Regions from separate parts of the Homo sapiens genome. Here regions 1 and 3 are each linked to region 2. Evidence: fine-mapped expression QTL. A gene starts in region 2. Each other region holds a variant in brackets. All regions are shown on one strand. Distances are between the middles of the regions.

Region 1 (2,844 bases), 700 kb before region 2:
TCCTGAAGGCTGTGTTGAGCTTTGCTGGGTGGTAGAAAGGAAGACAGGTGTTCAGGCGAGGGGAGGGCTCAGGCAAAGGCCGGGGCAGGAGAGTCTGGCCGTGTTGGGCGTTGGGGCACGTCTGAGCAGGGCCTGGTAGGGCAGGATGGGAGGTGGGAAGGCTCGAAGAGCAGGGGAACCCCGCTGGGAGTGGAGCCTTAGGAGCTGAATACAAGGCCCCTGGGTTAGATCACTGGGGATGCTGGAGAGGCTTTTAGTGGTGCTGAGCGCATGAGGCCAAAGTTCTTGGCATTCCTGCACTGCTTGCCTCCCTCAAACATTGGACGTGATGGCCAGGAAGGGGATTTTGGGGGACGGGACAGCCCATGCAAAGGCCTGACAGTTCGACCAAGCCCACCTTTCCCAGCAGGAGCCCGTGGTGTCCTGCTGGAGTTAGAGGGCAATGCATGCTGGCTTGGTTCTCCTCAAACCCGCCTCCCACTCCCTGTTTCCCACAGGGTGCAGCCCTGGAGTGTAGTTTTGGGCTGGAGGAGATCTTCGAGGCTGTGTGGGTGAATGAGTCTGTTGTACGCTGTGACCAGGTGGTGGTGAGTGGGGTGACTCCAGCATGGGCGGAGGGCGGGCCTGCGTTAAGTCCAGATGCTGTACCCCTCACCCCACCCTGCCTCTCTCTACCTTCTGGTTCCCCCATCCCCAGCAGCCCCAACTTCATCTGCCTCCATGACACCCATCCCCAGCAGAGCCCCAGGCATTGCCCATGCCCCCTATGCTCTTTTCTGCCCTTTTGCAGCTGCACACGACCCGGAAGAGCCAGGTGTTCCCGCTCAGCCTCCAACTAAAGGGGCGGCCAGCCCGATTCCTGGACAGCCCTGAGCCCATGACAGGTGGGCACCCCCACCCGCCCCACATGGCCTCGGGGCCTCAGTGCAGTGGGTGGGGCTCAGCCTTGTGCGACTCATTCCAGTGGTTGCCCCAAAGCCGCAGATGTCCCACCCCATTGTTCTCCAGCACACACACAGCCTCATATCCCAGCCCTGCCATGCCATGCCAGGCTCCAGGCCTTGGGGTCTCCGTGCATAGTTTCCCCTGCCTTCCTGGGCCTGATCGTCCCCATAGGAAACAGGACACAGTCCCTCTGCAGAGCTTGTAAGGACCTGATGAGCCAGGGCTCGCCCAACCTTGAGCGTGGCATCTGGGGTGTGGTCAGCTCCCCTCGCGTGGCAGCTGTGCAGTTGCTGTGACTGTCTGTGTTGGGTCCACTCTCCAGGGGCTCCTCTGTTCATGGGGAGTCTCAGGCATCCCTGGTGGACGTGGTGCCCTCCAGATTCCCACCATGAAGGTCCCAGAACGGCCCTGCATACCCAAGGTCCTGGAGAACCCTCCCTGCCCTCCTCTTTGGGCTACTTGGAGGGTTTGAAGCCCCAAAGTACTCATAGTCCACATTACTCAGGGATCCCCAGCATCCTAGGGCCCCGCCGGGGTTGATCAGACCCACTGAGGTCTGGGTGGGATCTGGCTTTACCACCCACAGGCCTCGTGAGCTCAGGCGAGTC[C/T]CTCCTGTCTGAGCGTCAGCCTCTTCTCTGTAAAGTGAGGCTGACCTGAGGCTCCCAGCTGGAGTCTCTGTGAGGGGAAGGAAATCAATGAAGCAGGGGCTGCACTGTGCTCAGCACAGGCCCCAGGGGTTTGGGGAAGGGGCTAAGAACCTCAGGGGATCCTGACCCCCAGAATCAGGACTTCCTCTGGGTGGGGCACCACAATGATGGGGCGCAGACCTCTTGACAGTTGTTGTGTGTGGAGGGCACAGCGGTGTTGGGGCATGCACCGCAGAGCGGGGCTGACCGAGCTGCCCCGTGTCTCCCCAGTCATGGTCTATAACTGTGCCATGGGCAGCCCCGACTGTTCCCAGTGCCTGGGCCGCGAAGACCTGGGTCACCTGTGCATGTGGAGTGATGGCTGCCGCCTGCGGGGGCCTCTGCAGCCCATGGCTGGCACCTGCCCCGCCCCCGAGATCCACGCGGTAAGCATGCCCAGTGGAGGCACGTGGCACCCGCACTCCGGCACGGCGCATGCGCAGTGCCCTCGAGGGTCCCACTTCTTGGGGACCCAAACGGCACATACACCGACACATGGGTGCAGTATCACCTGTGAACAAAAGGAAGTGCTCTGCCTCACAGAGCTGATGTTTCAGTGGGGGAGGTGGACAGTAATAAATAAGGAAATGAATAAATTATAGAAGGCATTGGAAGTGTGGCGTGGAGGAGACACCGAGGGCTGAATGTTGTTAGTTTCAGGGGATACCATGATCACTAAAGCCACCAATGACATGGCCAAACATTGCTCCTGGAAGCTGACCTCAGCATCCTCCAGGAGACCCCCTAAGTAGCGTCCCCAGGCCCACGTGGGCTCAGTAATGCACACCCACATCCTCCTTGCCAGCACAGTGACCTGCCAAGTGGCCACAGTCCCAGCCCCACCTGAGCCTCCAGACCTTCCTCTAAGCAGTGGGTCTGCACGGCTGTGCCCTGCTGGGTGCCTGTGACTGTGGGCAGAAGCCTGCTGGCCTGCAGCCTCAGATCCCATTCGCCCCTCTCTCGGGTCACCTGGCAGATTGAGCCCCTGAGTGGCCCGTTGGACGGTGGGACCCTGCTGACCATCCGAGGAAGGAACCTGGGCCGGCGGCTCAGTGACGTGGCCCACGGCGTGTGGATTGGTGGTGTGGCCTGTGAGCCACTGCCTGACAGATACACGGTGTCGGAGGAGTGAGTAGCCACGGTGCCCCCACCTACCTTCTCCAGCAGTGCCAGCCTCTGCTCTGTCCTCCTCACTCCTCCCTCCCCATCCTCT
Region 2 (2,500 bases):
CCAAGACCAAACCCAAGTCTTCCAACTCTAAGAAGACAATGAGTGTTTTATAACCAAACTGTTACTATTGGCTGGGTTGTGCCACCCTTGGGAAGCATCTTGGAGCCAGATTTCTGAGGAACCTCAATGGCAGGGAGAGGCGCTGGGCTCACCTGGGGAAGGAAGCCCCAGGGCGCTGGAAGGTGACTGAGGAGGGACATGGTGTAAGCTGTTTAGGAATCAGAGAGGAAGCCCCGCACATTTCCAGACCAGACCAGCTGAGATGAAGGCTGCTTTGTTAATTACCTAGCCTAGAGTTTTCCGAATTCCCCTGACAAAATTTAGCTGGAACACGTCACCACCACATTTCCAAGGGTCCCCCGTCTTGGAAATGTCTCACCCTTTCTCTGGGAAGGTTTTCCTGGAACTCAGGAATCCGGAGTGTTAACACGCCTCGGCCGCAGGGTGTATCTCTCTGGCAGGTTTGGGGAATCTCACAAAGTTCAACACCAGTCTTGCAGCTGAGGGTGAAAAGCGGGAGCCAGACAGCAAGGGTTCGCCCAGGGCTCGCGTTACCTTCTTGATTTTGCCTAGGAAAAGCTCTTTGGCGAAAGCTCGTACAGGCGGGCTGGTGCGCAGTAGCCGCCGGTTCGCGGTAGAGACCACCAGACCCCGGCAGGCACGAGCCGCAGCCGTGGTGCGCAGGAAGAGCCCGCAGCCGCTCATGCTGCCCGATGTTCCCCAGCCTCAGCCTCAGTCTCCCCTTCTTAGCGCCGCAGGGACACACACACGTCTGATGACGTTACTGGCCCGCGACAACGTGCAGTACTCACTGCGCTTGCGCGGTCCCCCGCAGCAGGGGATGGAGAGGCCAGAAGGGCGGGAAGGCTACCACCTGCCGCGCCCAAGGCCTTAGTCACGTGCACCTGGCTGGCCCGCGCCGCCTGATGACGTCACACGCCTACGCTTCCCGCCGGCCCCACTGCGCTTGCGCGGCCAAAGGAGCTGGCCGGAGGAAATTGTAGGCCCTGGGCCGCGGGCATCTCGGCGGGTATAATCTCTGGCCGTCGTGACGGCGGTGACGGACCTGTTTTTCACATACCAGCGGTTGTTTCCATAAATGCCAGCCATGGGAAATCTCCCTGTGTACAGAAACCTAAAGGCCGGCTCAGCTGCCTCCACTTGTCTCTTTTGTCACTTGTGGCCACGAGGCCGTGGTAAAACTTGAGAAAAGCAAAAGAATGAGGGAAATGCGCTGTATTGGGGTCTCTGCAGGGGCACGGTAAGGGTAAGGGTCCATTTTTAACTGGATGGTGGATTCCTGAGATACTGTTTTGTTCCTAGTTGACATGTATGTTACATATATTTTTTGGAAAAGGAAAAGAAAGTGGGTGTTCAGTCACAGAGCGGTCTGGATACAACTGAGTCACCTCTGTCCTGGGAAACACTAACTTAAAAGGCAGGCGGAGGAAGAGAAACTACAGAGAGAGCTGAGAAGAGATGGGAACTATTGGATGGGATGGGACAGGCCAGGCTGTAACCGCCCAAGGTTACAGCCCGCTGACTAGACAGCTGATTTATCAAGACGGAAATTGCAATAGAGAGAGAGTAATTCACGCAGAGCCGGGTGTGTTGGAAAGGGAGTTTTATTAGCCAAATCGGTCTCCCCAAAAACGGATCGGAATTTTTAAGGATAATTTGGCGAGTAGAAGCTCGGGAAGTGGGAGGTGCATGATTGGTCGGGTTGGAGATGGACTGATAGGGGGCCGAAGTGAGTTTTTCTTGCTGTCTTCTGTTCCTGAATGGGATTGCAGAACTAGTTGAGCCAGATTACCAGTCTGGGTGTTGGTAGGTTTTACAACAGTGATGTTATTCCCAGGAACAATTTGGGGGACGTTCAGACTCTTGCAACCAAAGGCTGTATGGCCTCTAAACTGTAATTTCTAATCTTATAGCTAATTTGTTAGTCCTCCAAAGGCCAACTGGTCCCAGGCAAGAAGAGGTTGTTTTTTGTTGTTGTTGTTGTTGTTTTCCCGGGAAAGGGCTATTTTTGTTTTGAAGTTAAACTATAAACTCATTCCTTCCCAAGGTTAGTTCAGCCTACGCTCAGGAATGAACAAGGACAGCTTGGAGGTTAGAAGCAAGATGGAGTTGGTTAGGTCAGATCTCTTTCATTGTCTCGGTTATAATTTTGCAGTGGCGGTTTCAAGGCCAGGCCATAGGGGCCCACGTAGGAGGCAGGGCATGCCTGGCACCTCACAGCCCAACAGTGCTCTGAACGTGGCACATGGGCCCTCTACAGATCTTCAGCCAGCTCCTCCAGGAAGAATGCCACTCTGCTTTTTCACCCAGACCGGTAATCTGGCTCAACAAGTTTTGCAATCCCACCTAGGAACAGAAGACAGCAAGAAAAACTCACTTCAACCCCCTATCATTCCATCTCCAACCCAACCAGTCAGCACTCCCCACTTCCCGAGCTCCTACTCGCCAAATTATCCTTAAAAACTCCGATCCCTGTTTT
Region 3 (2,844 bases), 290 kb before region 2:
AGTTAATGATTAAACAGTTACTGAAAGTGGAGAACCTTGCCATTTTTCGGACTGCGTTTTGGGTCTTTGGCACTGTGGTTAGGTTAGCTAATTCGATTATCCACTCAAGTTTTACTCAGTTGGAAATATGTTTTTCTAGATGATGGTGCCTGTGCTTAGGTTTGAGAGGATATTTAAAATACGACTTTGTGTGCCATTGTTTGACAGTGGAATTAAGGGTAAAAATATTTAGATATGGAAGTGTGAAAATGTAGTTGCATTGTTTTCATTATGTTCTATTCCATTTCATTCTATTTTAAGAATAGCCTCAATTTATTTTTAGATTGTTACATAAGTACAAAATCCATTTGCTTTAGTGGGAGTTTTATTTTTATTTTAAAATGATAACCAATTAAAGGAGTTTATTATGAAATTCTAAGTAGCATTGTTTAAAATGTAAAATTACATTACAGAAACATTTGGAAAGGGGAGAATAAAAGAAAACAAAACACAAATGTTGCCAGTGCTGTAGGTGCTATTATTAGCGCTTTGGTGTAACTCATGGTCGTTTTCCTACTATTTTTATTATACAGTCATCTCTTGGTATCTGTGAAGTGGTTCCACAAACTCCCTCAAATACCAAAATCCTCCTATGCTCAAGTTCCCAATATAAAATAGTGTAGTACTTGCATTACAACCTTTGCACATCTTCCCATATACTTTAAAATCATCTTTAGATTACTTATAATACCTAACACAATGTAAATGCTGAATAAGTAGTTGTTAACATTGTATTGTTTAGGGAATAATGGCAAGAAAAGTCTGCATGTTCAATACAGATGCAACTTTTCCACTGAATATTTTTATTCCAAGGTTGGTTGAAGCCATGGATGCAGAACCCATGGATATAGAGGGCCTACTGTACTTGTACCATCTAGAGATAAGATTTGTATCTTGCATTTGTTTTAACATATCTGTTCTAAGGAATATCTCAGTCACCAGGCAAGTGCTGCAGTATAACTAGGTACTACGTCAGGTGCTAAGGTTAAGAGAGTATTTTCCTTCACTGACTCCTCACTCCGAGAATCCATTTTACAGCTTCATTGGTTTGGGTTATTCCAATTTTTTGATGTGAGTAAATAAATGACTTCTATTTGCCCAAAATAAAGCTTATATAGGCCTTATAACCATGCAAATGTGTCCATTAAGTTGGACTTGGAATGAGTGAATGAGTATTACTGCCAGTGTGTGTGTGTGTGTGTGTGTGTGTGTGTGTGTGTGTCTGTCTGTCTGTCTGTCTGTCTGTCTGTCTGTCTGTCTGCCTGCCTGCCTGCCTGCCTGCCTGCCTGCCTGGCTGCCTGTCTGCCTG[TCTGC/C]CTGCCTGCCTGCCTGCCTGCCTGCCTGTCTGTCTCACTTTGTCCCCTAGGCTGGAGTGCAGTGGTATGATCTCGGCTCACTGCAACCTCCACCCCCCGGGTTCAAGCGATTCTTCTGCCTCAGCCTCCTGAGTAGCTGGGATTACAGGCGCATGCCGCCATGCCCGGCTGTTTTTTGTATTTTTAGTAGAGACGGGGTTTCGCCATGTTGGCCAGACTGGTCTCAAACTCCTGACCTCAGATGGTCCACCCGCTTCAGCCTCCCAAAGTGCTAGGATTACAGGCATGAGCCACCGTGCCCAGCCACTACCAATTATTTCTCTTAATGGATTTTCATTGACCCTAACCCTGTAAATTCCATCACTTTTATCAAGGTGTATATTATAATAAGTCTATAATACCCAATCATGTAGTTGTGTGATTATTTTATTTTTTTGAGACAGAGTCTCAATGTTGCCCAGGCTGGAGTACAGTGGCACCATCTCAGCTCACTGTAAGCTCCGCCTCCTGGGTTCACACCATTCTCCTGCCTCAGCCTCCCAAGTAGCTGGGATTACAGGCGCCTGCCACTTCACCGGGCTAATTTTTTGTATTTTTCGTAGAGACGGGGTTTCACCATGTTAGCCAAGATGGTCTCGATCTCATGATCCACCCACCTCGGCCTCCCAAAGTGATGGGATTACTGGCGTGAGCCACCATGCCCAGCTATTTTTTTAACCAATATATTAGCTAGCTTTTTTCCCCAGAATAATTTTCCAAAAATACATTTAATAGAGAATAAAAGTTAAAAGAACTTTCAGTGGTTTAATGCTGTTACTTTTAATATTTCAAAGATCTGACTGCAGCCATGAGCAGCAATGAGTGCTTCAAGTGTGGACGATCTGGCCACTGGGCCCGGGAATGTCCTACTGGTGGAGGCCGTGGTCGTGGAATGAGAAGCCGTGGCAGAGGTGGTTTTACCTCGGATAGAGGTATTTTGTCGAATAGAAAAATTTGAAGTACTTCAGTATTTGTTAGTATCAAGACTGGTCTGACTAGCCGAATTCTTTGTTTTTGCTCAAAACAGGTTTCCAGTTTGTTTCCTCGTCTCTTCCAGACATTTGTTATCGCTGTGGTGAGTCTGGTCATCTTGCCAAGGATTGTGATCTTCAGGAGGATGGTAAGTATTTAACACTTCCTTTTCATACCCCTCTAGAGCTTGGAGAGGTGAGCACATGCAACTGTGTATAGCATTTCCACCTTTGAGGTTTTGTATTGTATAATTTAAAACGTAACACTTTGTAAAGGTTTTATAGTCTTGGCCTGTTTCTTTTCCTTATTGTTGAAGCCTGCTATAACTGCGGTAGAGGTGGCCACATTGCCAAGGACTGCAAGGAGCCCAAGAGAGAGCGAGAGCAATGCTGCTACAACTGTGGCAAACCAGGCCATCTGGCTCGTGACTGCGACCATGCAGATGAGCAGAAATGCTATTCTTGTGGAGAATTCGGACACA

Direction of the effects. Alleles are on the strand shown, and positions count from the first base shown. SD is a standard deviation of normalised expression in the study named. Not every link is listed here.
For the expression in T cells of the gene that starts at base 961 in region 2, allele C in region 3 goes with a higher level than allele TCTGC (large effect, 2.0 SD a copy in GENCORD).

Evidence for each region.
Region 1: its variant is fine-mapped to the expression of ACAD9-DT in cerebellum (GTEx, PIP 0.98).
Region 3: its variant is fine-mapped to the expression of ACAD9-DT in T cells (GENCORD, PIP 0.95).

What each region holds. Positions count from the first base shown.
Region 1 is chr3:129,573,509-129,576,352 of GRCh38, reverse strand. It overlaps PLXND1 (plexin D1), which reads left to right. Exons shown (of 36, transcript NM_015103.3): 10 at 498-587; 11 at 791-884; 12 at 1,863-2,017; 13 at 2,608-2,759. Among named protein-coding and RNA genes, the nearest start is that of PLXND1, 32 kb to the left of the region's middle. RefSeq lists an enhancer at 2,572-2,844. The variant C/T (reference allele first, on the strand shown) is at 1,554.
Region 2 is chr3:128,877,897-128,880,396 of GRCh38, reverse strand. It overlaps ACAD9-DT (ACAD9 divergent transcript), which reads left to right and starts at 961. Exons shown (of 3, transcript NR_186174.1): 1 at 961-1,261. ACAD9 (acyl-CoA dehydrogenase family member 9) reads right to left here and starts at 777. Exons shown (of 18, transcript NM_014049.5): 1 at 556-777. The coding sequence starts at 705. RefSeq lists enhancers at 1-202, 511-590, 203-1,055, 651-1,200, 1,056-1,907.
Region 3 is chr3:129,171,113-129,173,956 of GRCh38, reverse strand. CNBP (CCHC-type zinc finger nucleic acid binding protein) reads left to right here. Exons shown (of 5, transcript NM_003418.5): 2 at 2,186-2,323; 3 at 2,419-2,511; 4 at 2,680-2,844. The coding sequence starts at 2,200. Among named protein-coding and RNA genes, the nearest start is that of CNBP, 11 kb to the left of the region's middle. The variant TCTGC/C (reference allele first, on the strand shown) is at 1,349.